4 separate regions of the Homo sapiens genome follow, and regions 1, 3 and 4 are each linked to region 2. Evidence: fine-mapped QTL for protein levels in blood plasma. A gene starts in region 2. Each other region holds a variant in brackets. All regions are shown on one strand. Distances are between the middles of the regions.

Region 1 (7,208 bases), 32 kb before region 2:
TGCTTTTCATTAGCAGTTGCTCACATGTCTTTGGGTGGGGGGGAGAAGAAGAATTGGCCATCTTAAAAAGCGGGTAAAAAACCTGGGTTAGGGTGTGTGTTCACCTTCAAAATGTTCTATTTAACAACTGGGTCATGTGCATCTGGTGTAGGAAGTTTTTTCTACCATAAGTGACACCAATAAATGTTTGTTATTTACACTGGTCTAATGTTTGTGAGAAGCTTCTAATTAGATCAATTACTTATTTTAGGAAATTTAAGACTAGATACTCGTGTGTGGGGTGAGGGGAGGGAGTATTTGGTATGTTGGGATAAGGAAACACTTCTATTTAATGCTTCCAGGGATTTTTTTTTTTTTTTTTAACCCTCCTGGGCCCAAGTGATCCTTCCACCTCAGTCTCCCAGCTAATTGAGACCACAGGCTTGTTACCACCATGCTCGGCTTTTGCATTAATCTAAGAAAAGGGGAGAGAAGTTAATCCACATCTTTACTCAGGCAAGGGGCATTTCACAGTGCCCAAGAGTGGGGTTTTCTTGAACATACTTGGTTTCCTATTTCCCCTTATCTTTCTAAAACTGCCTTTCTGGTGGCTTTTTTTAAAATTATTACTAATGATGCTTTTATAGCTGCTTGGATTCTCTGAGAAATGATGGGGAGTGAGTGATCACTGGTATTAACTTTATACACTTGGATTTCATTTGTAACTTTAGGATGTAAAGGTATATTGTGAACCCTAGCTGTGTCAGAATCTCCATCCCTGAAATTTCTCATTAGTGGTACTGGGGTGGGATCTTGGATGGTGACATTGAAACTACACTAAATCCCCTCACTATGAATGGGTTGTTAAAGGCAATGGTTTGTGTCAAAACTGGTTTAGGATTACTTAGATTGTGTTCCTGAAGAAAAGAGTCCAGGTAAATGGTATGATCAATAAAGGACAGGCTGGTGCTAACATAAAATCCAATATTGTAATCCTAGCACTTTGGGAGGCCAAGGCGGGTGGATCACAAGGTCAAGAGATAGAGACCATCTTTGCCAACATGGTGAAACTCCATCTCTACTGAAAATACAAAAATTAGCTGGGCGTGGTAGTGCAAGCTGAAGGCTGAGGCAGGAGAATCACTCGAACCCGGGAGGCAGAGGTTGCAGTGAGCCGAGATCACACCACTGTACTCCAGCCCGGCACTCCAGCCTGGCGACAAGAGTGAGACTCCACCTCAAAAAAAAAAAAAAGAATCCAATACTGCCCAAGGATAGGTATTTTATAGATGGGCAACTGGCTGAAAGGTTAATTCTCTAGGGCTAGTAGAACTGGATCCCAACACCAAACTCTTAATTAGACCTAGGCCTCAGCTGCACTGCCCGAAAAGCATTTGGGCAGACCCTGAGCAGAATACTGGTCTCAGGCCAAGCCCAATACAGCCATTAAAGATGACCTACAGTGCTGTGTACCCTGGGGCAATAGGGTTAAATGGTAGTTAGCAACTAGGGCTAGTCTTCCCTTACCTCAAAGGCTCTCACTACCGTGGACCACCTAGTCTGTAACTCTTTCTGAGGAGCTGTTACTGAATATTAAAAAGATAGACTTCAACTATGTGTCTGATGTCTATAGTTTGTTGTTTACCAATTATAATTCTGCAACTTCTTTTTTAACCCTAACCATATTGCAACTTTGTGATTAGCATTTAATACACAAATCACACCTACCTAGGTTTGTATTGTTGGCAAAACCTTTTATATATATATATATGTATACATATATATGTGTTTATGTATACATATATAAATACATGTATATATAAATATGTATACATATATATGTATACATATAAATATACTATATATGTATACATATATATGTGTGTATATATGTATATATATATATATTTTTTTTTTTTTTGAGACAGAGTTTCGTTCTTGTCACCCAGGCTGGAGTGCAATGGTGTGATCTCAGCTCACCGCAACCTCCGCCTCCCGGGTTCAAGCGATTCTCCTGTCTCAGCCTCCTGAGTATCTGGGATTACAGGCATGGGCCAGCACACCCGGCTAATTTTGTGTTTTTAGTAGAGACGGAGTTTCTTCATGGTAGTAAGGCTGGTTTTGAACTCCCGACCTCAGGTGATCCACCTCCTCAGCCTCCCAAAGTGTTGGGATTACAGGCGTGAGCCACCAAGCCTGGCCCAAAGCCTTTTATGTTAATGCAGTGGAGGTTTTTGCATTGGGCAAAACTTATCTATCTACCACAGTTTGCAAACCAGTCACTGAAAGTCATTCCCAAGAGCTCTGAGAGGCAATATAGCAAGGTTTAGTGCACATAAGAATTATTTGCATTAGTTTCTTCACCTACCAAAGTAGGAGAAAAACAGATATATAATGCAGAAGATATTTTGGAGGTATAAAACAGCTAATGTTTTACTTAACTATTCTGAAAGTAACTGACAGGTAATAAAAATGTGGGTTTTATTAGTCCACTACAGTCACAATACAATCGTCATAGATTTCCCCTTCTGTATTCATCCCACCAAACACCAAACAGAGCAGTGTAGCAGTCTGGCTTTCCTCATGTGAGTCACCACTGTGGCTCATTACTTTGTCAGCTGAATCCTCTTTCTCAGCTTCATGGTTCAGAGTGAGAGAGTTGGAATCTTCTTTCTCAGAAGCACACGTCACTGGCCATGGAATGATACACATGGAATGGTCCAATCGTCCAGGGGGTAGAAGAGTATC[A/C]AATTTAAGCAAGGTCCAATGCTGCTCTTCTATGTTGGGGAGGGAAAAGGCTTCATGTTAAGAAATTTCCAGATAGGCCGGGCACGGTGGCTCACGCCTGTAATCCCAGCACTTTGGGAGGCCGAAGCGGGTGGATCACGAGGTCAGGAGATGGAGACCATCCTGGCTAACACGGTGAAACCCCGTCTCTACCAAAAATACAAAAAAAAAATTAGCTGGGCATGGTGGCGGGCACCTGTAGTCCCAGCTACTCGGGAGGCTGAGGCAGGAGAATGGCGTGAACCCAGGAGGTGGAACTTGCAGTGAGCCAAGATCACGTCACCGCACTACAGCCTGGGCGACAGAGTGAGACTCCATCTCAGACAAAAAAAAAAAAAAAAAAAAAAACAATTTCCAGATAGTGAAAGCCAAAATCTGAATAAAATTTAAAAAGTAATGAAATTTCTAGAAATGCTCAGTGATTTACTGTAGCAGCCGAGTCCTAACAAACAGGAGTAAAAGGAAAAAAACCTTATGGCAGCATTGCTGCTTTCCTGATGTCATCCCCTACAGAGTTTTCATTCTTTTGGATTTAGATATAGAGGAACCAAATTGGAAGCACTGCATCACTTTTTTCTTTCTTTCTTTTTTTTTTTTTTTTGAGACAGAGTCTCGCTCTGTCACCAGGCTGGAGTGCAGTGGTGTGATCTCAGCTCACTGCAACCTCTCTGCCTCCTGGGTTCAAGCAATTCCCCTGCCTCAGCCTCCCGAGTAGCTGGGACTACAGGCGCCCGCCACCACGCCTGGCTAATTTTTTGTATTTTAGTAGAGATGGGGTTTCACCATGTTGGTCAGGATGGTCTCGATCTCCTGACCTCGTGATCTGCCTGCCTCGGCCTCCCAAAGTGCTGGGATTACAGGCGTGAGCCACCGCATCACGTTTCAAAGAATGTTTAGATTTGTTTAAAGATCCCCCATGGACACCTGCTCACCTGTGTGATACTGGTACATTGTGTCCAGTGCTCCTGCAGGAGTCATTCCACCAAAGATGTACACATGTTTTCCCATGGCCACAGCTGAGTGGGCAGCACAGCCTGCTGGAGCAGCCCCAGTGGGATTTAGCTTCTGCCATTTCATGTCACCTGCCAAGAGAAAGAAAGAGCTTTGGCGCAGCATGGGCTAAGATGTGCTTTCAAACTTATCTATCTACTGTAGTTTGCACACCAATCACTGAAAGTCATTCACCAAGAGCTCTGAGAGGTTTAGTGCACATAAGAATTATTTGGGGAACTCTGACATTATGATTGGGTAGTCCAGGGAGGAAGGCAGGGAGGGGCTCAGTGATTCCCAGAATCTCAGGCGATTCTGATGTAGGCAGTCTTTGGATCACACAGAAATGTGATACAACCTTTATAATAACAGTCACCTTCAACCATTCACTATTAACTGCCTCGAATTAGCTCAGTTTCTCTCTCTCTCTCTCTCTGTCTCTGTGTGTGTGTGTGTGTGTGTGTGTGTGTACTTTAAATACAGTTCCTGGGCCGGGCACGGTGGCTCACGCCTGTAATCCCAGCACTTTGGGAGGCCGAGGCGGGCGGATCACCTGAGGTCGGGAGTTCGAGACCAGCCTGACCAACATGGAGAAACCCCGTCTCTACTAAAAATACAAAATTAGCCAGGCATGGTGGTGCATGCCTGTAATCCCAGCTACTCAGGAGGCTGAGGCATGAGAATCGCTTGAACCTGGGAGGCGGAGGTTGCGCTGAGCTGAGATCACACCATTGCACTCCAGCCTGGGCAACAAGAGCGAAGCTCCGTCTCAAAAAAAAAAAAAAAAAAAAAATACAGTTCCTTAGCGATTTTGTAAGTGCTGGCTAAACAACAAATTTTGCTCACTTAATTTTCATAACAGCCCTATGAAATTTCTATTACTTCTGCCTATCCCCTTTCTTATTCTTTTTTTTTCCGCTCTGTTGCCCAGCCTGGAGTGCAGTGGCTTGATCTTGACTCCCAGGTTCAAGCAATTCTCTGCCTCAGCCTCCCGAGTAGCTGGGATTACAGGCACCTGCCACCGGGTCTGGCTAATTTTTTGTATTTTTAGTAGAGACGGTGTTTCACCATCTTGGCCAGGCTGGTCTTGAACTCCTGACCTCGTGATCCACCCACCTCGGCCTCCCAGAGTGCTGGGATTACAGGCGGGAGCCATGGCCTGGTGCCTGGCCTCCCCTTTCTTCTTACAAATGAGCAAACAAGAATAGAGAAGGAAAGAGACTTGTCCGAGACCCTATAGCTTGTAAGTGGCACAGCAAGACTGCACTTAGGTGTGGCTCCAAAGCCTGTGTCTCCAAAATCTCTACACGATAATGTGCTGCCTTAGCGCCTACTTCCCACCTATTTTTGCAGGGAAACTTGCATCTTTTCAAACAAGCATTTTTTTTTCTTTTGAGACAGAGTCTCACTCTGTTACCCAGGCTGGAGTGCAGTGGCGCGATCTCAGCTCACTGCAACCTCCACCTCCCGGATTCAAGCGATGCTCCTGCCTCAGCCTCCAGAGTAGCTGGCACGTGCCGCCACACCCGGCTAATTTTTGCATTTTTAGTAGAGACAGGGTTTCACCATGTTGGCCAGGCTAGTCTCAAACTCCTGACCTCAGGTGATCCGTCCACCTCGGCCTCCCAAAGTGCTGGGATTACAGGGGTGAGCCACTGCTCCCAGCCAAAACAAGCATTTAAATAAGGCAAGCTATCACTGGATTTTAGATTTAGAGAACTACTTGGGTAGGCAGGAAAAATAGTCAACAAGTAGTTCCTAACACCAGAAAAAGGCTCTTTTTAAAAATAAGCATTAAGACCCCATCTGACTGCCCGCAAGGAATGGTTTTGTGTAAATAGTTTCCATCTGTCGGCCGGGCGCAGTGGCTCACACCTGTAATCCCAGCACTTTGGGAGGCCGAGGTGGGCGGATCACAAGGTCAGGAGATTGAGACCATCCTGGCTAACACGGTGAAACCCTGTCTCTACTAAAAATACAAAAAATTAGCCGGGCGTGGTGGTGGACACCTGTAGTCCCAACTACTCAGGAGGCTGAGGCAGGAGAATGGCATGAACCCGGGAGGCAGAGCTTGCAGTGAGCCAAGATTGCACCACTGCACTCCAGCCTGGGCAACAGAGCGAGACTCCATCTCAAAAAAAAAAAAAAATAGTTTCCATCTGTCAATGCAAGGCAGGGGCCCAGCATCTCAGAGTAAGAAGGGAGAATCACCCGGTGTGGCCAAAATTCTAGCCAATGCAAGAATACAAAGCCAGTGTCCCCTGGCCTCAGCTGTCATGGAGCCAGATAATTCAGGGCTTGGGAAGTCAGCCCGATACACTACACAGGACTTCCCATGCCTTCTGCCCATTGTTCCAGTTCTTGTAGTCTGGAGCAATGCAGAACATGTTCATTTCTTCATCCCTCCACTCAATAACAGGTATGAGCCGGGAGCAGTGGTTCACGCCTATAATCCCAGCACTTTGAGAGGCCAAGGCGGGTGGATCCCTTGAGTCCTGGAGTTGGAGACCAGCCTGGGCAACATGGTGAAACCTCATCTCTACAGAAAATAAAAAAATTATCTGGGTGTTGTAGCACGTGCCTGTTGTCCCAGCTACCCGGGAGGCTGAGGCAGGAGAATCACTTGACCTGAGAGGCAGAGGCTGCCATGAGCTAAGATCGCATCAGTGCATTCCAGCCTGGGCAACCAAGTGAGACACTATCTCAAAAAAAAGAAAGTACCTGTCACCCACTATCTGCCAGACACTGTGCTAAGTGCTAGAAATGTACTGGAGAACAAAATAGACAAGTTCCCTACCATAATGGACCTCACAGCTTGAAGGAATTGCCCAGAATGAGTCCAGGGTCTCTCCACAGCATATCAGCCCTTCAGATACTTAAAGGATATTTCTCATGTTCTCTCTAACCTTCCTCTTCCCACTGTTTTCAACCATTTAACATGAAAAGCATGAAACTCTAGTCATCTACATCCACATTATCCAGATCCTTCATGGGTTAATGGCTAACACCAGAAAGAAATCCAGTAGGCCAACACAAAGCATAATGGGTTGTAATGAAAGGAGAGCACTGTTGGAAGGTTAAGAGACAATAAATGGCTGGGTCCATAGTAAGCACTCAGGAGATTATTTAGTGCTATGATTTTTTATTATTAGTATTCTGTCCAGAGGTAACAGAATCTGATGAAGATTCTGCCAGCTGGTCAAGTTACCTACACATAAGAGCAAGGCTATATTTTCTTTTTCTTTTTTCTTTTCTTTGAGACGGAGTCTCACTCTGTCGTCTAGGCTGGAGTGCAGGGGTGCAATCAGCTCACGGCAACCTCCACCTCCCAGGTTCCAGCGATTCTCCTGCCTCAGCCTCCCACGTAGCCAGGACTACAGGTGCCTGTCACCAAGCCTGGCTGATTTTTTTTTTCTTTTTTTCTTTTTTTTTTGGAGACGGAGTCTTGCTGT
Region 2 (7,437 bases):
TCCAGGCAGAAAGAGCAGTCCAGGCAAAGAGACCAGCATGAACAGCTCCTGAGTGGAACAGTGCAAAGGGCACAATAAAGAAGAGAAAGAGAACAAAGGAACAAGTCATGGGATTTGAGGTTGGAAATACAGGCAGAAACATTTTGCAGGGACCATTGGGCCAGTTTAAGAAGTCTAATTTGTTTGTTTGTTTGTTTGAGACGGAGTCTCCCTCTGTTGCGCCCAGGCTGGAGTGCAGTGGCACCATCTCGGCTTGCTGCAACCTCCACCTCCCAGGTTCAAGAATTGTCCTGCCTCAGCCTCCCGAGTGGCCAGGATTACAGGCATGCACCACCACTCCCGGTTAATTTTTGTATTTTTAGTAGAGACGGGGTTTTGCCATGTTGGCCAGACTGGTCTCAAACTCCTGGCTTCAAGTGATCCACCCACCTCAGCCTCCCAAAGTGCTAGGATTATAGGCATGAGCTATTGCGCCCGGTCAGGAGTCTGATTTTTCTTTTTTTTTGAGATGGAGTCTCGCTCTGTCGCCCAGGCTGGAGTGCCTCAGCCTCCAGAGTAGCTGGGACTACAGATGCCCGCCACCACGCCCGGCTAATTTTTTGTATTTTTAGTAGAGACAGGGTTTCACCATGTTAGCCAGAGTGGTCTCGATCTCCTGACCTCGTGATCCGCCCACCTCGGCCTCCCAAAGTGCTGGGATTACAGGCATGAGCCACCGTGCCCGGCCTTTTTTTTTTTTTTTTTTTTTGAAACGGATTCTTGCTCTGTGGCCCATGCTGGAGTACAGTGGCATGATCTCAGCTCACTGCAACCTCTGCCTCCCAGATTCAAGCAATTCTCCTGTCTTAGCCTCCCTAGTAGCTGGGACTACAGTTGCACAACACCATGCCAGCTAATTTTTGTATTTTTAGTAGAGATGGGGTTTCACCATATTGGTCAGGCTGGTCTCAAACTCCTGACCTCAGGAGATCCACCCGCCTTGGCCTCCCAAAGTGCTGGGATTACAGGCATGAGCCACCGTGCCCAGCCCAGGAGTCTGATTTTTATCCCAACACCAACAGGGAGGCACAAAAGGGTTTTAAACTAGGAAATGCCATGATTGGCTGTATTCTGGGTACAGAGCAAGACAGATGCATGGAAGCCAGTCTGGAGTCTCTCCTTCAAGGTCCTGTTGAAGAACTGCCACCTCTCTACAACCTTCTGTGGGCCCTGACTCAGAGCAGATCACATTTTATCACCATCACCTGCTTAGTCTGTAGTCCCCAGTACACAGAGACTATTTACAATTCTACCTCCAGCACCCACAGAGCAGCTGCCCCCATCAGGCCAATGTTAGTTGTTGAATAAAGGGTTGTTTGAACAAACAGCCAAGAAACAGTGAAGCCAGTTTAATCCAAATCTAATTTCCTAAAAATCTTAAAAATGAGTCAGAGCTCGGGGGAAGACACAGCATTGGAGCTGAGGATGCCAGATGGTCAGTGCCTTACTCTTTCTGGTAAATGGATTTTAATAAAATTAACATCTGCTCTGTGATAATTACTGCCCCCCTATCTTTCCTCTGAAGACTTTCTCAGACAGTTTGAGTCTAATTACCAGAAACTGCAGACAGTTTCATCTCTACCCCTTTTTGTTGATGATCAAATATGTAAATAAACTACTTATAAATGAAACAAAAACTCATGCTTTTCTGTGTCTGGATCCTTCCTTACAGACCATGTTGCTTTCCTGGGCTTGTCTCCAGGTTCCAAGACTGGCAGTTGCTTCATGGTGTCCTATGCATAAGAAAGAAAGGCACTTTTTAGACACTTATGATTATCATCTTAATCAATTCAACCTCCTTTTTAAACCTTTCCTGTTGAATGTACTAATTTCTAGGCCTGATTGATTTGAATAAGAATCACCAACTTTTCATCTTTATTTTTATTATTTATTTATTTATTTATTTATTTGAGATGGAGTTTAGCTCTCGTTGCCCAGGCTGGAGTGCAATGGCAAGATCTCAGCTCATGGCAACCTCTGCCTCCCAGGTTCAAACGATTCTCCTCCCTCAGCCTCCCGAGTAGCTTGGATTACAGGCATGTGCCACTACGCCCAGCTAATTTTTCTATTTTTAGTAGAGATGGAGTTTCACCATGTTGGTCAGGCTGGTCTCGAACTCCTGACCTCAGCTGATCCACCCGCCTCAGCCTCCCAAAGTGCTGGGATTACAGGTGTGAGCCACCGTGCCTGGCCTATGTATTTATCTTTATTATTATTTTTAGATAGAGTCTCACTCTGTTGCACAGGTTGGAGTGCAGTGGTGCAATCTCCACTCACTGCAACCTTCCCCTCCCAGGTTTAAATGATTCTCCTTTCTCAGCCTCCTGAGTAGCTGAGATTACAGGTGCCCACCCACGCCCAGCTCATTTTTCTAGCTTTTCTAGTAGAGACGGGGTTTTACCACACTGGCCAGGCTGGTCACTAACTCCTGACCTCAGGTGATTTGCCCGCCTCAGCCTCCCAAAGTGCTGGGATTACAGGCATGAGCCACCGTGCCTGGCTTTATTTTTTATTTTTATTTTTTCTGAGATGGAGTCTCACTCTGTCACCCAGGCTGGAGTGCAGTGGCAGGATCTCAGCTCACTGCAACCTCTGCCTCCCGGGTTCAAGCTATTCTCCTGCCTCAGCCTCCAGAGTAAGCTGGGACTACAGGCAAGTGCCACCACACCTGGCTAATTTTTTTTGTATTTTTCGTAGGGATGGGGTTTCACTATGTTCGCCAGGCTGGTCTTGAACTTGGCTCGCCTCGGCCTCCCAAAGTGCTGGGATTACAGGCGTGAGCCACTGAGCCCGGCCATTTATTTATTTTTTAATTAAAAATAGAAACGGGGCTGGGAGCAGTGGCTCACGCCTGTAATCCCAGCACTTTGGGAGGCCGAGGCAGGCGGATCATGAGGTCAGATCGATACCATCCTGGCCAACATGGTGAAACCCTGTCTTTACTAAAAATACAAAAAAAATTAGCTGGGCGTTGTGGCCCACGCCTGTAGTCCCAGCTACTCAGGAGGCTGAGGCGTGAGAATTGCTTGAACCCAAGAGGCGGAGGTTGCAGTGAGCCGAAATTGCGCCACTTGCACTCCAGCCTGGCGACAGAGCAAGACTCCTCCTCAAAAAAAGAAAAAAAAATAGAAATGGAGGTTTCGCTTTGTTGTCCAGGCTGGTCTCGAACTCCTAGCCTCAGGCAATTCTTCCACCTCAGCCTCCTAAAAAGCTGGGATTACAGGTGTGAGCCACTGCTCTCCGCTCAAAGGACAAAATATTTAAAGAAGCTGAGAAATACTGAGCTCTGGGATAAATCTTGGCCTCAACATAGCATAGAAAGTAAGGCCTTCTGCTGTTGAGCTTTTTTCCCGTGAACTCACCTCCACAATCTCTTGCATTATTGGTTTTTTTGCTGTTCTTGTAATATGGCAGGCCTTTTCATAATTTTGCAGCCTGTTCTGCTTCCCCTATTTGGAATGTCGCTTCCCTTCTGGGAAATTTGCAAACTCCTAGTTAACCTTCAAAGCCCAGTTCAAAAGTCCCTTCCCTGGTGAAACCTTCCCTGATTTGCCCTTTTCTCTTCCACCCACATCCAAGTTACTTCCTTCTTCCACCCACTGGGCTCTGAAGGTATTAGCCATCACCATTGCAGGAATCATTTGGAATGTTTATCTATTTAAGGCTTCTAGACTAGATTCTAGATTAAATTCCACTAGACTAAGTTCCTAGAGGGCTGGGCCTGTCAGATCCATTCCGAGAACCTACCAATGGACCTGGCATGGAGTAGAAGTGGGGGAGTGGCTAGTGAATGAAGAAAGAAAATAGATTGAGAGATGAATGGATAAATCTCACCTGCGGCCTAGGCCACTGACAGCTGTCCCCAAAGTCCAGAGCTCAGTTAGGCTGGCTTCACGTGGGCGGGACCTCCCGCAGCAGCCGCCGCTACCAGCCCAGCAAATCTCATCCCCACGTGGCAGTTCTAGGGGATAGGAGACGGGGTCGGGAAAGAACAGGCTGATTCGGTCAAAGTGGCCGGGACGGAGCCAGGGAAGGCCCTTCCCCGTTCTTTGCACCCGGCTTGGGCCCACTCCCCTAAAAGATTCAGACTCCCTGCCCGAGACCGTGATAGACCCGGTATCCGGGGACCCTCGCCCCTACCCTCCAGCCCCGGACTGCAATACCTGCGGCGACTTAGGCCAGTCGCGAGCCGTGACTCCACCCCGGAGGGGCGGGGCTTAGGTCCGGGCCCTCCTCCCAGGACCCGGAAGAGCGTCCGGGCCAACCGCTCCCTCTTCCCTGCTCCGCCCCGAGGGCCCGGCGCTGACTTCCTGGGCTGGCGGTGGAGGGGTCCCCCAGACCGGGAGTGGACGCCAGGCTCTGCATTTCTCGGGAACCAAGTGGGGTGGGCCTTCCCTGGGTCCCTCCCTCCCGGACGGGATAAATAAGCCGGGGCTACTTGGAAACGATTTGCGCAATGCCGGGTTCGGGCGTCCGTTTGGGGAACTCAGATGCCTGCGGCAGCTGATCTACTCTGTAAGGGGCTAACAGGGCTGGGCGCCACCACACTCCAGCTTGGGCAACAGCGCAAAAACTCCCTCTCAAAAAAATAAATAAATAAAAGGGGGGGAGGGTATAACAGTTACATTTCCAGTTACAACGATTGTTTTTTTTTTTTTTTTTTGAGACGGAGTCTCGCTCTGTCGCCCAGGCGGGACTGCGGACTGCAGTGGCGCAATCTCGGCTCACTGCAAGCTCCGCTTCCCGGGTTCACGCCATTCTCCTGCCTCAGCCTCCCGAGTAGCTGGGACTACAGGCGCCCGCCACCGCGCCCGGCTAATTTTTTTTGTATTTTTAGTAGAGACGGGGTTTCACCTTGTTAGCCAGGATGGTCTCGATCTCCTGACCTCATGATCCACCCGCCTCGGCCTCCCAAAGTGCTGGGATTACAGGCGTGAGCCACCGCGCCCGGCCACAACGATTGTTAACAGTTTCTAAAGGGGAGAGTTGAGCATGCAATCCTCCTGCGCAGTCTTCGGGCCAGCTCAAGATTTGGTGCTTTAAACAGCTGATTCATTCCATAATTGCCATTTGTAATTATGGCAGGTGCTATGCTGAGCCAGACACCACCACGCTTTGCCTCCAGGAGCAAGTCTTAACTAGAGAGAGATCAAAGAAAAAGACAACTAGGGACGACTGCCAAGAGTGCAATAAATATAAAGTTCAGCCAGGAGAGTATCTGTTCTGAAGTTACTTTCCTCCAGGCCTCAGGGTTGTCTGTTTGTAACCATGGAGCTAATAAGATTTCTATCATAGGCTGGGCGCGGTGGCTCACGCCTATAAGTCCAGCACTTTGGGAGGCCGAGGCGGGCGGATCACGAGGTCAGGAGTTCGAGACCAGCCTGGCCTACATGGTGAACGCCCCCGCCCCCCCCCCCAACTAAAAACACAAAAATTAGCTAGGCGTGGTGGTGGGCGCCTGTAATCCCTGCTACTCAGGAGGCTGAGGCAGGAAAATTGCTTGAATCTGGGAGGCGGAGGTTGCAGTGAGCCGAGATAGTGCCACTGCACTCCAGCCTGGGTGACAGAGCCAGACTCCGTCTCAAGAAAAAAAAAAAAAAAAGAGAGATGTATGTAGTAGTTGTGGTGGGGAATACATGACATAATGTAAATAAAAGTGCTCAGCACCCAGCAGCTGGCACAGAGTTCTCTGTCAAGGGTAAAGCTATTCCTGACTATAAATGAACAATGTCTCTAGACATATTCAGAATCTACATTATCTTTGTTTTAGTTCATAACCATAGGTTCTCTGTGTCTTTCCTGAAAATAGAGAGGTGGCTTGCTCTCTTATGTCTGTTTCAAAGAACTCCAGTCTCTGAAACTGTCGCTGTGTCCTAGAAAATAGAGAAAACAGCTCAGGTTAGAAACAGGAGCTCCTGGAGTATAGAGCTATGGTAGCTTAGTGGGAAGAGATCAAACATACTTGGGTTAAAATCCAAGCTCCAGGCTGGGTGTGGTGGCTCATGCCTGTAATCCCAGCACTATGGGAGGCCAAGGAGGGCAGATCACGAGGTCAGGAGTTCAAGACCAGCCTGGCCAACATAGTGAAACCCCATCTCTACTAAAAATACAAAAATTAGCCAGGCACGGTGATGCGCACCTATAGTCCCAGCTACTCGGGAGGCTGAGGCAGGAGAATTGCTTGAATCGGGAGGCAGAGGTTGTGGTGAGCCAAGATCATGCCACTGCACTCCAGCTTGGGCAACAGAGCAAGACTCTGTCTAAAAAAAAATCAGCCAGGCGTTTGCCTGTAATCCCAGCTACTCAGGAGGCTGAGGCAGAAGAATCACTTGAACCCAGGAGGTGGAGGTTGCAGTGAGCCGAGATCGTGCCACTGCACTCCAGCCGGGGCAACAGAGCAAGACTCTGTCAAAAAAAAAAAATCCAGGGTCCAGCACTAACCATCTAACTCTGACATTTGGCAAGTTACCCACTCTGAACCCTAGTTCCTCATCTATAGAATGATGATAGTATTACCTGCTGTGCAGACAGAACTGTTCAGAGGATGTGCTAATACAGGTGAAAGGCCAGGTTGGTGAAAGGAATATTTTAGCTACTTGAAACCATAACCAAAATTTATTGACAAAATGGAATTCAAGGTCTGCGGCTCTTTCAAACATATGGAGTCTTTGTGAGTTCCCACTTTAGTGGAAAAATCCCCATTGACTGTCTGCCAAAGAGAAGTTTAGGGATATTCAGTCATTCTGCTCTCCTTCAGGAAAGAAAACCAAGTCCAGGTTAGCTCTGCCATATGTCCATGTGCATCTCCACGTACATTTCTGCTCACAGCTGCAGAATGCTCTGATGTCCCCGGTGTTTTCTGGCTAGCTCTGTTTCAAGGTGCCATGCTGGAGTGGCACATCAACAAGAAAAATTGGAAGAGGTTTGTGGGCAAAATAGCAGCCAGTTTTCACTGCGGGACCTATTTATTTATTTATTTACAGACGGAGTCTCGATTTGTCGCCCAGGATGGAATGCAGTGGCGCCCTCAGTTCACTGCAACCTCCGCCTCCTGGGTTCAAGCAATTGTCCTGCCTCAGCCTCCCAAGTAGCTGGGATTATAGGCGTGGCCACCACGTATGGTTAATTTTTGTACTTTTAGTAGAGACGGCATTTCACCATGTTGGCCAGGCTGGTCTTGAACTCCTAGCCTCAGATGATCCACCTGCCTTGGCCACCCAAAGTGCTGGCATTACAGGCATGAGCCACCGTGCCTGCTGAACCTATGCTTTTAGACTAGAAATCACATTTGAGAATGTGGAATGCCTGAGATCTATTTTCTTTTTTTTTTTTTGAGACAGTCTTGCTCTGTCGCCCAAGCTGGGGGAGTGCAGTGGCATGATCTCGGCTCACTGCAAC
Region 3 (7,437 bases), 19 kb before region 2:
TTTGAACTCCTGACCTCAAGGGATCCACCTGCTTTGGTGTCCCAAAGTGGCCTCCCAAAGGATTACGGGCATGAGCCACTGCGCCCAGCCTGCAAAAACTCTTTGAAACAAAGGTCTGCCAAACAATTTGTCTTTGAATTACTGTTTATGGTATGCCTGCTGGTTGTTCAAGGAGTCCCCAGTGTCCCAAGGAATTTAATTTAAAATTACCTGAAATGGTTTCTGCATAAATATGTTCCTTATAGCATTTTTTTTTTTTTTTTTTTTTTAGAGTCAGGGTCTCGCTCTACTGCAAAGGCTGGAGTGCAGTGGTGCAATTATGGCTCACTACATCCTCAAACTCCTGGGCCCAAGCGGTCCTCCAGCCTCCTGAGCCGATGGGATTATAGGCATGAGTCAGCATACCTGGCTTGTTCATTACAGTATTGTTTATAATAGACAAAAATTGGAAATAGCCTAAGTGTCCATGAGCAGGTTTAATTATTAGTATAGCCATGAGGAAATATTACACACTTTTTAAAAAATTTATTTATTTTTTTGAGACAGAGCCTTGCTCTGTCACCCAGGCTAGAGTGCAGTGGCGTGATCTTAGCTCACTGCTACCTCCACCTCCCAGGTTCAAGGGATTCTCCTGCCTCAGCCTCCCTAGTAGCTGGGATTGCAGCAGAGGGTGGCAGGCAGGCACCTGCCACCACGTCCAGCTAATTTTTTGTATTTTTAGTAGAGACAGGGTTTCACCATGTTGCCCAGGATTACCTGACCTCAGGTAATCCACCCACCTCTGCCTCCTGGGTTCAAGCAATTCTGCTGCCTCAGCCTCCTGAGTAGCTGGGATTATAGGCGCCCGCCACCATTCCTGGCTGATTTTTGTATTTTTAGTAGAGACAGGGTTTCACCATCTTGGCCAGGCTGGTCTCGAACTCCTGACCTCATGATCCACCCGCCTCTGCCTCCCAAAGTGCTGGGATTACAGGCGTGAGCCACCGCGCCTGGCCTAAGCACTTATTAAAAATGATGGTGAAGGCCGGGTGGTGTGGCTCAATGCCTGTAATCCCAGCACTTTGAGGGACCAAAGCTGAAGGATCACTTGAGGCTAGGAGTTTGAGACCAGCCTTGGCAATGCAGTGAGACCCTGACTCTAATATTTATATAATAATCATCATTTCAAAATGCTGGTGAAGACTTTCTGATTGCATGGAACAATGCTTAAGTGAAAAATATAGGATGCAAATGTAACATATAGAATTATCTCTGTCCTTTTTTTTTTTTTTTTTTTTTTTTGATACAGAGTCTTGCTCCCTCACCCAGGCTGGAGTGCAGTGGCAAGATCTCGGCTCATTGCAACCTCCGCCTCCGGGGTTCAAGTGATTCTCATGCCTCAGCCTCCCAAGTAGCTGGGATTACAGGTGTGCGTCACCACGCCCAGTTAATTTTTTGTATTTTTAGTAGCAACGAGGTTTCACTATGTTGGTCAGGCTGCTCTTGAACTCCTGACCTCAAGTAATCTGCCCTCCTCAGCCTCCCAAAGTCCTGGCATTACAGGCGTGAGCCACCACATCTGGTTTGAATTATCTCTGTTCTTAAAAAAAAAAGATTGATAATACACTGAGATGTTAACAGTAATTTAATTTTGGGGTGATAGTACATACACATGTACACACACACACACATATACACATACATATGTTTTTTTTCTTGTTCCTTATAGTTTTATATATTCAAAACCAATATTATTTAAACTTTTAAAACTGCTTTAAAAGAATCACAAAGCCCATTCTTTCTGGAAAGAGAAAAGTCACACTGTGATGTGTCTTTTTTTTTTTTTTTCCCAAATACTCTGGCTTGGGAATGTGCTATCTCTTAATTTTCCCAATTTTACTTTGCAAGGTAAAAATTTTGGCTGAGTGTGGTGGCAGAGGTGGGCAGGCAGAGGCAGGCAGATTGCTTGAGCTCATGAGTTTGAGACCAGCCTGGGCAACATGGCAAAACTGCATCTCTACAATAAAAATACAAAAATCTGGCCGGGTGCAGTGGCTCAAGCCTGTAATCCCAGCACTTTGGGAGGCTGAAGTGGGCAGATTACCTGAGGTCAGGCTTCAAGACCAGCCTGGCCAACATGGTGAAACCCTGTCTCTACTAAAAACGCAAAAAATTAGATGGACATGTTGGTGCATGCTGGTAATCCCAGCTAGTTGGGAGGCCGAGGCAGGAGAATCGCTTGAACCCGGGAGGCGGAGGTTGCAGTGAGCCGAGATCGGGCAACTGCACTCCAGCCTGGGCAACAGAGCGAGACTCCATCTCAAAAAAAAAAAAAGAAAAAGAAAAAAAATCACCCAGGCATGTACCTGAGGCGGGGAAAGGAAAGGCTGAAGGGGAATCTTTTACTTCTGTTTGTTTTTTGTCTTTCTTATTCTTTCTTTTACTTTTTTACTTTATAAATTGTATGGTTTAAACTTTTTAACTTGATCATTATACCTTTTTATTTTTTTATTTAGTTTTTGAGAGAGTCTCGCTCTGTTGCCAAGGCTGGAGTGCAATGGCACGATCTTGGTTCATTGCCACCTCCGCCTCCCGGGTTCAAGTGATTCTCCTGCCTCAGCCTCCCGAGTAGCTGGGATTACAGGCACCCACCGCTGCACCCGGCCAATTTTTGTATTTTTAGTAGAGATGGGGTTTTGCCATGATGGCCAGGCTGGTTTCAAACTCCTGACCTCAGGTGATCCTCCCACCTGGGCGTCACAAAGTGCTGGGATCACAGACGTGAGCCACCGTTCCCGGCCTACCTTTTTAGTTTTATTTATTTATTTATTTATTTATTTATTTATTTATTTATTTGAGATGGAGTATTGCTCTGTTGCCCAGGCTGAGTGCAGTGGCCCAATCTTGGCTCACTGAAACTTCCTCCTCCTGGGTTTAAGCGATTCTCCTGCCTCAGCCTCCTGAGTAACTGGGATTACAGGTGCATACCATCATGCCCGGATAATTTTTGTGTTTTTAGTAGAGAAAAGGTATGTTGGCCAGGCTGTTCTCGAACTCCTGACCTTAAGCGGTCCACCTGCCTCAGCCTTCCAAAGCTCTGGGATTACAGGTGTGAGCCACCATGCCAGGCCTCACTATCCCTTTTTAAATGCCAATTTTGCTGTGGGAAAAAGATATCAGCTAAGAGATATAACAAAGAAGTCTAGAAGTGAGACACTTAGTCAGGCTTTCCTTTTCTAACTTCTGCTTCCTATATTAGGTAATGTGTAAACTGGGATGGCCCTGACCAGCCCCAAGGTGCCCACCAGTCCATACTTGCGTCAAACACATGCAGCTTCGTGTCCTGCACGGGCTGGGCACCTCTCTCTCCGCCCCCAAAGACATATAGCTGGTTTCCAATGGCTGCCGATGATGTGTGGAATGTTCTTGGGGATGGTGGGGG[GC/C]TGGTCACTTCTGGCGTGGTCCACGTCCTGGTTTCTGGGCCAGAGAGAATGCAGGCACTTAAAATATCCAGGTAGAGGGGCTTCTGACCTTGACTCTGGGGCTGAGTGAAGTCAGTTTCCAAACTCCAATCCCCAGGGGGGCCAGCATAGTTTTGGGCAGGGATCTCATACTCACAAACATCAAGGAAGAATGAAGATGATACTTAGGATTTGCCAAGACAGTCCAAAATCCCCAAGATTTAAAAGCTGTAAGCACAAGAATGGAGTCAGGCTGGGTGCAGTGTGGCTCATGCCTGTAATCCCAGCACTTTGGGAGGCCAAGGCGGGCGGATCACTTGAGGTCAGGAGTTCGAAACCAGCCTGGCCAACATGGGGTAAAACCCCATCTCTACTAAAAATCTGAAAAATTAGCCGGGTATGGTGGTGGGGACCTGTAATCCCAGCTCCTCAGGAGGTTGAGGCAGGAGAATCGCTTGAACCCAGGAGGTGAAGGTTGCAGTGAGCTGAGATTGCACCACTGCACTCCAGCCTGGGTGACAGAGCAAGGCTCCATATTAAAAAAAAAGAAGAAAAAAAAGAGGTCAATTTGTTTTGGAGGCCTTCAAATATCCTCTCTGAACCCTCTTCTACTTTGCTCACTATCGCTCCCCCTAACATCTGCTAACATTCATTCCCACTAGATGCCAGAGTCCAGGTGTGCCAGATTTCCCAGAAAATGTGGCCAATAAAAGAAAGTAGGCAGGCCATGTGCAGCAGCTAACACCTGTAACCTCAGCAGTTTGGGAAATCGAGGTAGGAGGATTGCTTGAGCCCAGGAGTTTGTGACCAGACTGGGAAACAAAGCAATATCCTGTCTCTACAAAAAATCAGCCAGGGGTGCAGTGGCTCACGCTTGTAATCCCAGCACTTTGGGAGACCAAGGTGGGTGGATCACTTGAGGGTAGGAGTTCTAGACCAGCCTGGCCAACATGGTGAAATCCCATCTCTACTAAAAATAAATAAATAAATAAATAAAGCCAGGTGTCGTGGTGGGGACCTATAATCCCAGCTACTCAGGAGGCTGAGACAGGAGAATCACTTGAACCAGGAGGCGGAGGATGCAGTGAGCTGAGATCATGCCACTGCACTCCAGCCTGGTTGACAAAGCGAGACTTCATCTTAAAAAATAATAATAATAAAATAAAATAAATTAAAAATTAAAAAAAATTAGGCTGAGCACAGTGGCTGTAAGGCCTGTAACCCTAGCACTTTGGGAAGCCAAGGCAGGAGGATTGCTTGAGCCCAGGAGTTTGAGGCTGCAATGAACTATGATCGTGCCATTGCACTCTAGCCTGGGTAAAAGAGTAAGACCATATCTTGAAAAAAAAAAAAAAGAAAGAAAGAAATGAAAAAAAAAAAAAGACAATACTATTACATTTCAGTAGCAGTAATAACAGTCCCTACTAAACAGTAAATGCTAAACAAATATTAATTTCCGCATTTTACAGGTAAGAGAATTGAAGTAGGGATGGATTAAGTAACTTTTTAAAAGAGACATGGCTAGCCAGGCTCGGTGGCTCATGCCTGTAATCCCAACACTTTAGCAGGCTGGGGCAGGTGGATTGCTTGAGCCCAGGAGTTTGAGACCAGCCTGGGCAACATGGCAAAACCCTGTCTCTACAAAAAAATACAAAAAAAAATTAGTCGGGTGTGGTGGCGTATGCCTATAGTCCCAGCTACCTGAGAAGCTTAGGTGGGAGGATATACTGAGCCTGCAGCGGTTGAGGTTGCAGTGAGTCAAGATCACACCACTGCAACTCCAGCCTGGGTTACAGAATAAGGCAAAGAAAGAGAGAGAGAAAGAGAGAGAGAGAGAGACAGATAAAGTGACATGCCTAAGAAATGGCTGAGTTGGAATTTAAACTCTTTCAGTAACACCAAGATCTTTCTAATTCCCACTCCTCTGACTGGAGAATAAAATTTCACCACCTAGATAGATGTATAGAAGCTTATTTCTTTTAAGGATGAACCTGGGTTTTATAGAAGCAGATGCATTAATTGAGCACCCTCAATGGGCAGCATCATTGCCCTGGGCACTGCCATCCCTGGTGTCTTCACTCAAGCTTGGGAAGTGAGCGGAAGTATCTCTACTTTTAGATGAGGAAACTGAAGCTCTGCACATTTAAATCCTTTCCTGCAGGTTATAGCATATGTGCGTAGCAGAGCAGGAGTTTGAACTCAGTTCTTTTTTTTTTTTTTTTTTTTTTTTTTTGAGACGGAGTCTCGCTGTGGCTCCCAGCCCAGAGTGCAGTGGCGCGATCTCGGCTCACTTTGCAAGCTCCGCCTCCCGGGTTCACGCCATTCTCCTGCTTCAGCCTCCCGAGCAGCTGGGACTACAGGCATCCGCCACCATGCCCGGCTAATTTTTTGTATTTTTTTTTTTTTTAGTAGAGACGGAGTTTCACCGTGTTAGCCAGGATGGTCTCGAGCTCCTGACCTCCTGATCTGCCCGCCTCGGCCTCCCAAAGTGCTGAGATTACAGGCGTGAGCTACCGCGCCGGGCCTGAACTCAGTTCTATCAGAGTCCCACACTTGCTCTACCATAACACACCAAGAAATTCTGTCTTTTGTAAAAGGTCTACATCCAATATATAAAATGCTACAGGAAACATCTGTAATATGTGTGGGACTCAAATGGGGACCTGGAGACTGAAAAAGTCTCAGCCTATATCCAAAGCAAAATGTAGCTGTCTCTATAGTTACAGATGTTGGAGAGCTTTTGGATCTTAGAGGGAGCTAGAAAGGTATACATGTCACCTCCAGGCCCAGAAGACCCTAGGGCTGTATTCCTGCCAACTCAAACACCAGCACAAAGAATCACAAAGGAGTCCTGAGCATTTGAGGGACTTGCCTTGGTAACAAATGCAACTAAGTACATATTTCATATTTCTTGGGCATGATGTCAAATTATATTTTCTAGGAGAGAAAAGGGATATGATAGAAAATCACCCTCTTTAATATAAAAATTAGCTGGGCATGGTGGCATGTGCCTGTAATCCCAGCTACTCGAGAGGCTGAGGCTGGAGAATCATTTGAACCCAAGAGGTGGAGGATGCAGTGAGCTGAGATTGCGCCACTGCACTCCAGCCTTGGCAACACAGTGAGACACTGTCTCAAAAATAAAAATAAATAAATAAATAAATAAAATAAAATCACCCTCTTTGACAGCTTTCCAAATTCTCACTTTATTTTATTTCAATGGATACCATTGTTGAAAATCAAAAGGCCAGGGTTCCAGAACTGATTTCCCTTTGCCAAACCTTAACTACATCAACTACCACAACAATTACTGAGCATTAATTATGTGCCAGATACTGAGTTTATTTAAATCCTTGACAAATTAACAAGGTAGAAACTATTACTATCCAATGTGACAGAAAACAGAGGCAGAGAGAGGTTAAATCACTAGTCCAAGGTCATAGTTAGTGCATAGCAAAACAGAGACCCTCATCTGTGCCCTTAAGCACCATATTATACTGCTAGTCCTCCAAGCAAATTGGCTTCACAATTAGCCAAATGGTCTGCCAAGTGTCTACTCTATCACTTTCTTCTTTTTTTTTTTTTTTTGAGACGGTGTCTCACTCTGTCACCCAGGCTGGAGTGCAGTGGCGCGATCTCGGCTCACTGCAACCTCCACCTCCCAGGTTCAAGCGATTCTCCTGCCTCAGCCTCCCAAGTAGCTGGGACCACAGGCACCTGCCACCAAGCCCAGCTAATTTTTTCTTTTGTATTTTTAGTAGAGACGGGCTTTCAGTATGTTGGCCAGGCTGGTCTGGAACTCCTGACCTTTTGATCCGCCCTCCTCGTCCTCCCAAAGTGTTGGGATTATAGGCATGAGCCACCATGCCCGGCCGTGTCTACTTTATTTCGGACAGTGTTCTGTACCCTGAGTATTCAACAATAAACAAACTCTTCCCTTCAAAGCGCTTATGTTCCACAGAGGGAGGGCATGGAAGAGGAGGGAAGACAGGAAATA
Region 4 (7,437 bases), 310 kb after region 2:
TTTGTGCCACAGTGAACCTGAGCAGGCACTGTCAACCCCACCTCCCACAGTGCTGGATCTTAGGTGGCTCTGAGGCGCTAGGGCAGACTTTGGAGCCACAGAGACTCAGTTCTGTCTTGTCAGCCTAGCCCCTCACTAGCTGATGCTTGAAGGAATCCATTTTCCTGCAGCCTTGACCTCCCGGACACAAGCAATCCTCTCGCCTCGGCCTCCTGAGTAGCTGGCACTACAGGCATGTGACACCATGCTCGGCTAATTTTTCTTATTGTTTATAGAGACAGATCCTCACTGTGTTACCCAGGATGGCCTTGAACTCCTGGGTTCAAGCGATCCTCCCACCTCAGCCTCCTGAAGTGCTGGGATTATTGGTGTGAGCCACCGTCCCTGGTCATTACTTCTTCTTCTTTCCATAACCAATTGTTCCAGTCCCCCACTCCATTCACGTGGCCTGCGAGTCTGACTTCTTGTTCTTGGCTACTGTCCTTAGACCAGCTCTTCAGGATAGGCCCCTAGCCTTGGTGTGGGTCCTGGCGGGGGTGCTCGTGGGGCAATCGATCCTCAGTGGTGTGCCATTTCCAGAGAAGTCGGTGGGTTGCCTGCCAGGATAGCTCTGAGAGGGATACTGAGGGCATGGCAGGGAGGGGCCAGGCTGGGAGCCTGGGAAGTGGGGAGCATGTTGGTCTGGCTCTGCAAAGCCATGCCCTGTCTGCTGGGCTTCTTGCGTGGCATACAGCTAAAAAACTGTGAACTAAGTTTTGGGGCTCAGTGGTTTTCTGCATTGTAGGAAGAATGGAGCCAAAGAGAAATTGTGAGCGTGGCCATGGCTCAAGCCCTGGAGGAGGTGCGGAAGCAAAGGGAAGAGTTCCAGCAACAGGTGGGCCCTGTTTCACGCTGAGGGGCGATGTCCCCCTGCAGTCCCACAGGCAGCAGGCCCATCCTGCCGTGAGACTGTTGGAGAGGGCCTGTCTCTCCAGGGTAGGGTAGTAGACTCAGGACTCAGGGAATGCAGTCAGCTGCGTGGGCCCCTGTGCTCTCTAGGAAGCTGGGAGACAAATGTTATAAAGAAACTCTTACCCCATAGGATGCCCTTTTCTGATTTTTCAACTATAATTACCTGGAAAGTGGTCCATGTCCACGGGCCTAGTGGGCTCTAATTCTGTGAGGTGACCTATCATTGCCCACCTGCCCCAGAGGCCACGTAAGGTTGGGTTGAGTTTTTGCAGGAAGTATGGGAAAGCCTCCCTTGAAGGTAGACTTTGCATCTGACCCCAGAGCTTCTAGTTAAGTGGCTTTAGGCCTTTGGTAAGTCCTTAACAAATCTGAGTCTCCTCTGATGAGGACTCTAGCCTTCTACTTACACCTCTGGGAAACTATTCTGTAATGAGGCAACATATATCAAATGCGTGTCTAGTGCTGGGGATGTTGCAGGCACTCAGGAAATGGAAGTTATGACAGCTTGTTGGGCTGGGCAGAATGGCCACGTCTCTGGTTGACCCACTGTTGGCCAGGGGGCAGTGGGAGGCGACTGCCCCTGTGCAGGGCCCCTACCAAGGAGAATAGATTTGTGCATGTTCATAGGAGCAGAGCTTAGCTGGGGGTTTGCTCTGGGTCGTGGACTTCAGGGAGGGATTCGTGGTGTACCCTGGAGAGCGGGGAAGTGGAGATTTCTGTGGGAAGATGGAGTCACTGCTCACAACCTTCCCTCTTGTTGATTTTTCTCTCCAAGGCAGCTAACCTGACAGCCATAATAGACGAGAAGGAACAGAATCTGCGGGAAAAAACCGAAGTGCTTCTCCAGAAAGAGCAGGAGATTCTCCAGCTGGAGCGAGGTGAGGAGTCGGTCCCTGGCTGAGCCTTCTCTCCTTTTCAGGCCCAGCATCCTGCCTTGTGACGGCCTTGCCACCAAGCAGCATGGAGTCACTGGGCTCACAGTGCCCCCTCCCCTCCTCCCCGACCTAGGTCACAACTCTGCCCTGCTGCAGATACACCAGCTGCAGGCCGAGCTGGAGGCCCTGAGGACCCTCAAGGCGGAGGAGGCTGCAGTGGTCGCGGAGCAGGAGGACCTGCTGAGGCTGCGGGGCCCATTGCAGGCCGAAGCACTCTCAGTCAATGAGTCGCACGTAAGTCCCAGCTGCACCTGCATGGGTGCTACAGCAAGATGCAGGGCAGGTGCCGAGAGTGCCCCTAAGGAGGCAGCAGTGGGGACACATGGTGGACACGACGCTCCCCTGCATGTAGGGTCCTTTCTTTGAAGTAGGGCACTTGGCCAGGCGCAGTGGCTCACGCCTGTAATCCCAGCACTTTGGGAGGCCGAGGCGGGTGGATCACGAGTTCAGGAGATCGAGACCATCCTGGCTAACACGGTGAAACCCAGTCTCTACTAAAAATACAAAAAATTAGCTAGGCGTGGTGGCGAGTGCCTGTAGTCCCAGCTACTCGGGAGGCTGAGGCAGGAGAATGATGTGAACCCGGGAGGCGGAGCTTGGTGGAGCCGAGATTGCGCCACTGCACTCCAGCCTGGGTGACAGAGCAAGACTCCGTCTCAATAAATAAATAAATAGATAAATAAATAAAGTAGGGCACTCATATGGCTAGGAGGCCATGAGTCCTGAAGAGCCCATCACAGATGGCACCCCTGTCGGTAGGCAGGGGAGAGCAAGCCCCTTCATCCCAGCAAAGACTAGTCGTGTGATTAGTTGTGGGCATTGGGCATTGGATCTTCTCCAGGAATTGCTTCCTGGCCAGTTGCCTGTTGGAGCACAACGCCCATACCTAAGGGACGAGTCTAGCTCCCCTTCCCTGTGTACCTGTGGCTCAGCTTCACCTGACCTGTCCTGGCTCTCAATTTGCTGCTGCCACCTTGTAGGTGACCTCGAGGGCCATGCAGGACCCTGTGTTCCAGCTTCCAACTGCAGGAAGAACACCAAATGGTGAGGTTGGGGCCATGGATCTCACACAGCTACAGAAGGAGAAACAGGACTTGGAGCAGCAACTTCTGGAGAAAAATAAGGTGAGGATGCCTTTTGCATGGCTGTTTCTGTCTCCACCAGGTCCTCACCCTCAGGCCTAAAATGACCCAGTCCATCCTTGGAGGTTTTTGTGGTTTCCCCCGCACCTCCTGGCAACCATGACCCCTCTCACCCAAAGGCCTTCCTCCTGATCTTCCGTTCCTCCTGCACTGTCCTCCTCCACACCCTCCCCAGCCCTCTTCTCCCCACCCCCTGGAGAACTGGACAAGTGTCAGGCTTGGGCAGCTGCAAGCCTGCATGTTCCCTGCCAGCTCTGCTGTCCCCAGCCAGGCCATAGCGACAGTCCTCTTTCGTCTATACTTCCTTTCTACAGCTGTGGAAGTAAAGCACTGATAGCTGCCTTTAAGGGTTTGTTTGGGTGGGAGGAGGGGGTTATGAAATGAAGGTATTTGTGAACCGTCCTATAAACTTTATAAACTCTCTGGTATTTGGTAGAGGCTCAATAAATGTCATGGTCCCCACCCTTCACCCTCCAGCCTTTCCACCTATATAAATGCAGGATCTCATTTAATCCTGGTTCTTAAAGTGTCCTGTGAAGCTTAGTGTGCCAGCCGGCTATTGCTCTGGCCTGACATTCTGCCCCCAAATTGTGTGTGTGTTTGTGTGTGTGAGTGCACGTGTGTGTGTGTGTTTAGATCTTTTACAAGGGGGAAAGTGTTCATTATGTCTAATATAAAATACAGAAGCTTTGCAGCAGTGGCAGTATCGTAGCCAATGAGGTCTATCCGAGGCGCGATTATTGCTAATTGAAAAAAAAAATACACACAGGAAAGTGTACAAAACAAATGTGTGTCTCAGTGAATTAACAGAAAGCAGACCCATGTAACCACCCCGATGCGAATCAGGATATTGCCAGCATCCCAGAAGCCCAGCCCCCTGAGCCCCTCCCAGCCCTGTCAGTCACTCCGATCCCAGCCCTTCTGGCAATGACTGCCTTGCTTTTTTCCCTAGTGTCACCTCAGCTCGCATTGCTCAACCCCACAGTTTCGTTTTGCCTGTTTGCAAATTTCCCGTTTGTCCCCTAGGACCTCCGTCCCTTGAGCCTCTGGCCTTACCAGCTGTGCTGCCTTCCTGCCTCCTTGTTCAGCGTCGGGTCTGTGTCTGTCACGGGATCACTGCCTTCCCGACACCTGCGGTCCTCTGGCCTCTCTCCCTTTCCTCAGACTGTCCTAGCCAAGCTCTGGTTAAACTTGGGCTAAACCCAACTCTTCCCTGCTCCCTGCCTGCAGCCATGGAGGCAGACCTGGCTGGAGAGTGCCATCACCTGGGCATTCAGGTCCCCTCGAAGCTCAGGACCATGGTCCTGCGGGCAGCCCAGTGTTCCCCGCAACCCCACCTCATCCGTGGGCCTTCACGCCCCTCTGCCCCTAACCCCAACTTCATGTCTACCTTCTCTCCTCTCTTCACCTCAACCCTGCCTCACCCACCCTGGTGCTCCCACCTCCTGCTTCTCTGAGAAGGGACGTGCCACAGCCTCTCCTCATATCCTGTTCCCCCACCTCCCCAAGCACTACGCCAGCCGCCTCCCCCTTCTTGCCTAGGTCGTTTTTTCTTGGAATCGTCCCATCTACTGAGAGGTGCGCCGTTGTGCAGGCACCTTATGAAAGCCCTCGGCTTGCACCCCTTTGCCCTGCTG[C/T]TGCGTCTCTGCTCACCTGCCGTGCTGACATGTTAAAACTTCCTATATCTGCCATCTCCATTCCCACTCCTCTTCTCTCTCAACCTTTCCTCCACCACTCCACAGAAAAACACTCTTGTCAAGCTCATCAGTAACATCTGCACTGCTAAATCCAGAAGGCAGTTCCTAATTTTCCCTCTGATTGGCCTGTTGGCAGCCTTGGACAGGCGTCTCTTCCTCCTCCTGAAGCTCCCATCCATGGCCTGCTCCTTCTCCGTCTCCTCTGACAGGCCAGTCTCCTTCCCACTGCCACCCGCCGTGCACAAGGGCAGCCCTCACAGCTCTTCTCTGCACTGTGCGCCCTCCTCTGCGATCTCAGCCATGCCCTGCGCAGCTGACTCCCCTCCCTACCTCCCGCCCAGACAGCTCCACGGACACTAGCCTCACAAACCTGTCTCCACATGAGCTCTAAGGTGTCTGAAACTCAAAACATCGGAAAACACACTTCGGCTTCACTGTGTTCCCTGGCTGCCATGCCACCTTTCCCATCTCAGTAGACGGCAAAAGCCTTGGAGTTGTCCTATCTGCCTTGGTTCTTTCTCTACCAGCATCCAGGCTGTTAGCAGATTCCTTCAGCACCCCCTTCACACATTTCCCAGAATCCACCACTTCACATCGCTGCCACCTGCTTCAGGTTACCATTGTCTCTTCTCTGGAAGATGGTATCAGACTTCTAACTGGTTTCCCTGGCACTCTTGTCTTAGCCCTCTGATGAAAGCCTGTCTCTGTTGATCTCTTATGAAAGCCTGAGTCCTTGCAGAGGCCCGCAAAGCCCTGTGTGGTGTGGCCCCTCATTACCCCTGCCAGCTGAGCCCCTCCTGTCCTCGTCACTCCCTCTCAGCCACAGGGGCCTCACTCCCATCAAGTACCCTCCAACCTCAGGGCCTTGGCACTTGCTGAGCCTTCCGTTTGGAAGTGCCTTTCCCTGGTCATCCTCACTTTCTTTATGCCACCCTGACCAGCCTCACCACCAGAACCCCACCCTCCCTCACCATGCTGCCTCTTCTCCATGCCTCTTCATACCCTCTGATACACTGCGGATTTGATTATTGATTTCTTTTTTTTTTTTTTTTTGAGACAGAGTCTCCCCCTGTCACCCAGACTGGAGTGCAATGGCGTGATCTTGGCTCACTGCGACCTCTGCCTCCTCGGTGCAAGCGATTCTGTTGCCTCAACCTCCCGAGTAGCTGTGATTACAGGTGCCCACGATCACGCCTGGCTAATTTTTTTTTTTTTGAGATGGAGTCTCTGTCGCCAGGCTGGAGTGCAGTGGCGCGATCTCAGCTCACTGCAACCTCCGCCTCCCGGGTTCAAACAATTCTCCTCCTGCCTCAGCCTCCCAAGTAGCTGGGACTACAGGCGCGCTACCACGCCCAGCTAATTTTTGTATTTTTAGTAGAGATGGGGTTTCACCATGTTGGCCAGGATGGTCTCGATCTCTTGACCTCGTGATCTGCCCGCCTCGGCCTCCCAAAGTGCTGGGATTACAGGCGTGAGCCACTGTGCCTGGCTTTTTTTGTATTTTTAGTAGAGACGGGGTTTTGCCATGTTGGCCAGGCTGGTCTGGAACACCTGACCTTGTGATCCGCCTGCCTTGGCTCCCAAAGTGCTGGGATTACAGGTGTGAGCCACCACACCTGGCCTGTTTATTGATTCTTTTCCCCTCGAGGGTGAACTTTTGACTTTTTTGTTGCCGTTTCTCCAGCCCCTAGAACAGTGCAGGGACTCAGTAACTATTAGATGAATTACTGAGTGAGGAAAATCCAGGAAACCAAAATAACGTAAGATAAAGTAGCCAATGTACTTTTGGGGCAGTGTCCAGCCTCATGGTCAGCCAAGAGAATAGAAATCAAAGCCACAAGGTGCCATTTTACAAAATTGGGTGTGTTGGAGGTCACTTAAGATGCCTCACAGTGGAGAAGTTAGAAACTGTGGTCTTCTGACTCAGTCATTCTATCCCCAAGAGAAACAATGGGGATTCCTCGCTTGGGGAAACAAAGCTTATCCCAGCTTTGTTTAAAGTGGAAGCCCAGCCACGCAGTAAGACAAGGGCATCCCCGGGAGTTCCTGTCACATTAGACATTACAATTAGGAAAGCTGGAGGAGGCAGTGATGACTCTGATACATGAAAAATGTATTTACAATTCCAGCCACGCTGTGCAAGAATGGGGATGTGGACTGGGGGTACATGGAAGAATGCATTTTGATATATTACCATTCAGAGACTTTGAATAAATTTTTATTTAAAACCGGGCGTGGTGGCTCATGCCTGTAATTTCATCACTTTGGGAGGCCAAGGCGGGCAGATCACCTGAGGCCAGGAGTTCGAGACCAGCCTGGCCAACATGGTGAAATCCTGTCTCTACTAAAATGACAAAAATTAGCTGGGCGTGGTGGCACACACCTGTAATCCCAGCTACTCAGGAGACTGAGGTGGGAGAATTGCTTGAACCCAGGAGGCAGAGGTTGCAGAGAGCCGAGATCGTGCCACTGCACTCCAGCCTCAGGGACAGGGTAAGACTCCGTCTCAAAAAAAAAAAAATTTTTTTTCCCTATATTATGAAGTTTTTAGTTGAGAAAATGTCTCAGCCTGTCTAGTGAATAATGGAATGTGTATGGAATGTGTAATAAATGTAAGGCTCATAATACTATTTAAACATCAAAGAAAATTAGCCAGGCGTGGTGGCGCACAGCTGTAGTCCCAGCTACTCGGGAGGTTGAAGTGGGAGAATT

Direction of the effects. Alleles are on the strand shown, and positions count from the first base shown. The strength of an association depends on the size of the effect and on how common the allele is.
For the plasma level of the protein whose gene starts at base 4,238 in region 2, A is the high allele of the variant in region 1 and C is the other (weak association).
For the plasma level of the protein whose gene starts at base 4,238 in region 2, GC is the high allele of the variant in region 3 and C is the other (moderate association).
With allele T in place of C in region 4, the plasma level of the protein whose gene starts at base 4,238 in region 2 is lower (weak association).

What was found. PIP is the posterior inclusion probability: the model's chance that the variant is causal. Protein levels are from antibody-based Olink assays in UK Biobank. Linkage for the fine-mapping came from a reference panel and not from the study's own genotypes, which makes the PIPs less certain.
Region 1: its variant is fine-mapped to the plasma level of the RABEPK protein (UK Biobank, PIP 0.90). The variant lies in the coding sequence of RABEPK. If it changes the protein, the assay may bind it differently, which can mimic a change of level.
Region 3: its variant is fine-mapped to the plasma level of the RABEPK protein (UK Biobank, PIP above 0.99). The variant lies in the coding sequence of RABEPK. If it changes the protein, the assay may bind it differently, which can mimic a change of level.
Region 4: its variant is fine-mapped to the plasma level of the RABEPK protein (UK Biobank, PIP above 0.99).

The regions. Positions count from the first base shown.
Region 1 is chr9:125,229,236-125,236,443 of GRCh38, reverse strand. RABEPK (Rab9 effector protein with kelch motifs) reads right to left here. Exons shown (of 8, transcript NM_005833.4): 7 at 3,699-3,848; 8 at 2,283-2,756. The coding sequence ends at 2,464. It overlaps HSPA5 (heat shock protein family A (Hsp70) member 5), which reads left to right. Exons shown (of 8, transcript NM_005347.5): 8 at 1-1,591. Among named protein-coding and RNA genes, the nearest start is that of HSPA5, 8.5 kb to the left of the region's middle. The variant A/C (reference allele first, on the strand shown) is at 2,728.
Region 2 is chr9:125,197,343-125,204,779 of GRCh38, reverse strand. It overlaps RABEPK (Rab9 effector protein with kelch motifs), which reads right to left and starts at 4,238. Exons shown (of 8, transcript NM_005833.4): 1 at 3,874-4,238; 2 at 1,714-1,772. The coding sequence starts at 1,766. LOC105376271 (a long non-coding RNA gene) reads left to right here and starts at 4,384. Exons shown (of 2, transcript NR_135145.1): 1 at 4,384-4,554; 2 at 5,125-5,247. RefSeq lists a silencer at 4,311-4,360.
Region 3 is chr9:125,216,558-125,223,994 of GRCh38, reverse strand. RABEPK (Rab9 effector protein with kelch motifs) reads right to left here. Exons shown (of 8, transcript NM_005833.4): 5 at 3,295-3,456. Among named protein-coding and RNA genes, the nearest start is that of RABEPK, 20 kb to the right of the region's middle. The variant GC/C (reference allele first, on the strand shown) is at 3,422.
Region 4 is chr9:124,883,826-124,891,262 of GRCh38, reverse strand. It overlaps GOLGA1 (golgin A1), which reads left to right. Exons shown (of 23, transcript NM_002077.4): 16 at 785-874; 17 at 1,727-1,829; 18 at 1,960-2,120; 19 at 2,867-3,010. It also overlaps the pseudogene RNU4-82P. Among named protein-coding and RNA genes, the nearest start is that of ARPC5L, 25 kb to the right of the region's middle. RefSeq lists a silencer at 6,999-7,140. The variant C/T (reference allele first, on the strand shown) is at 4,666.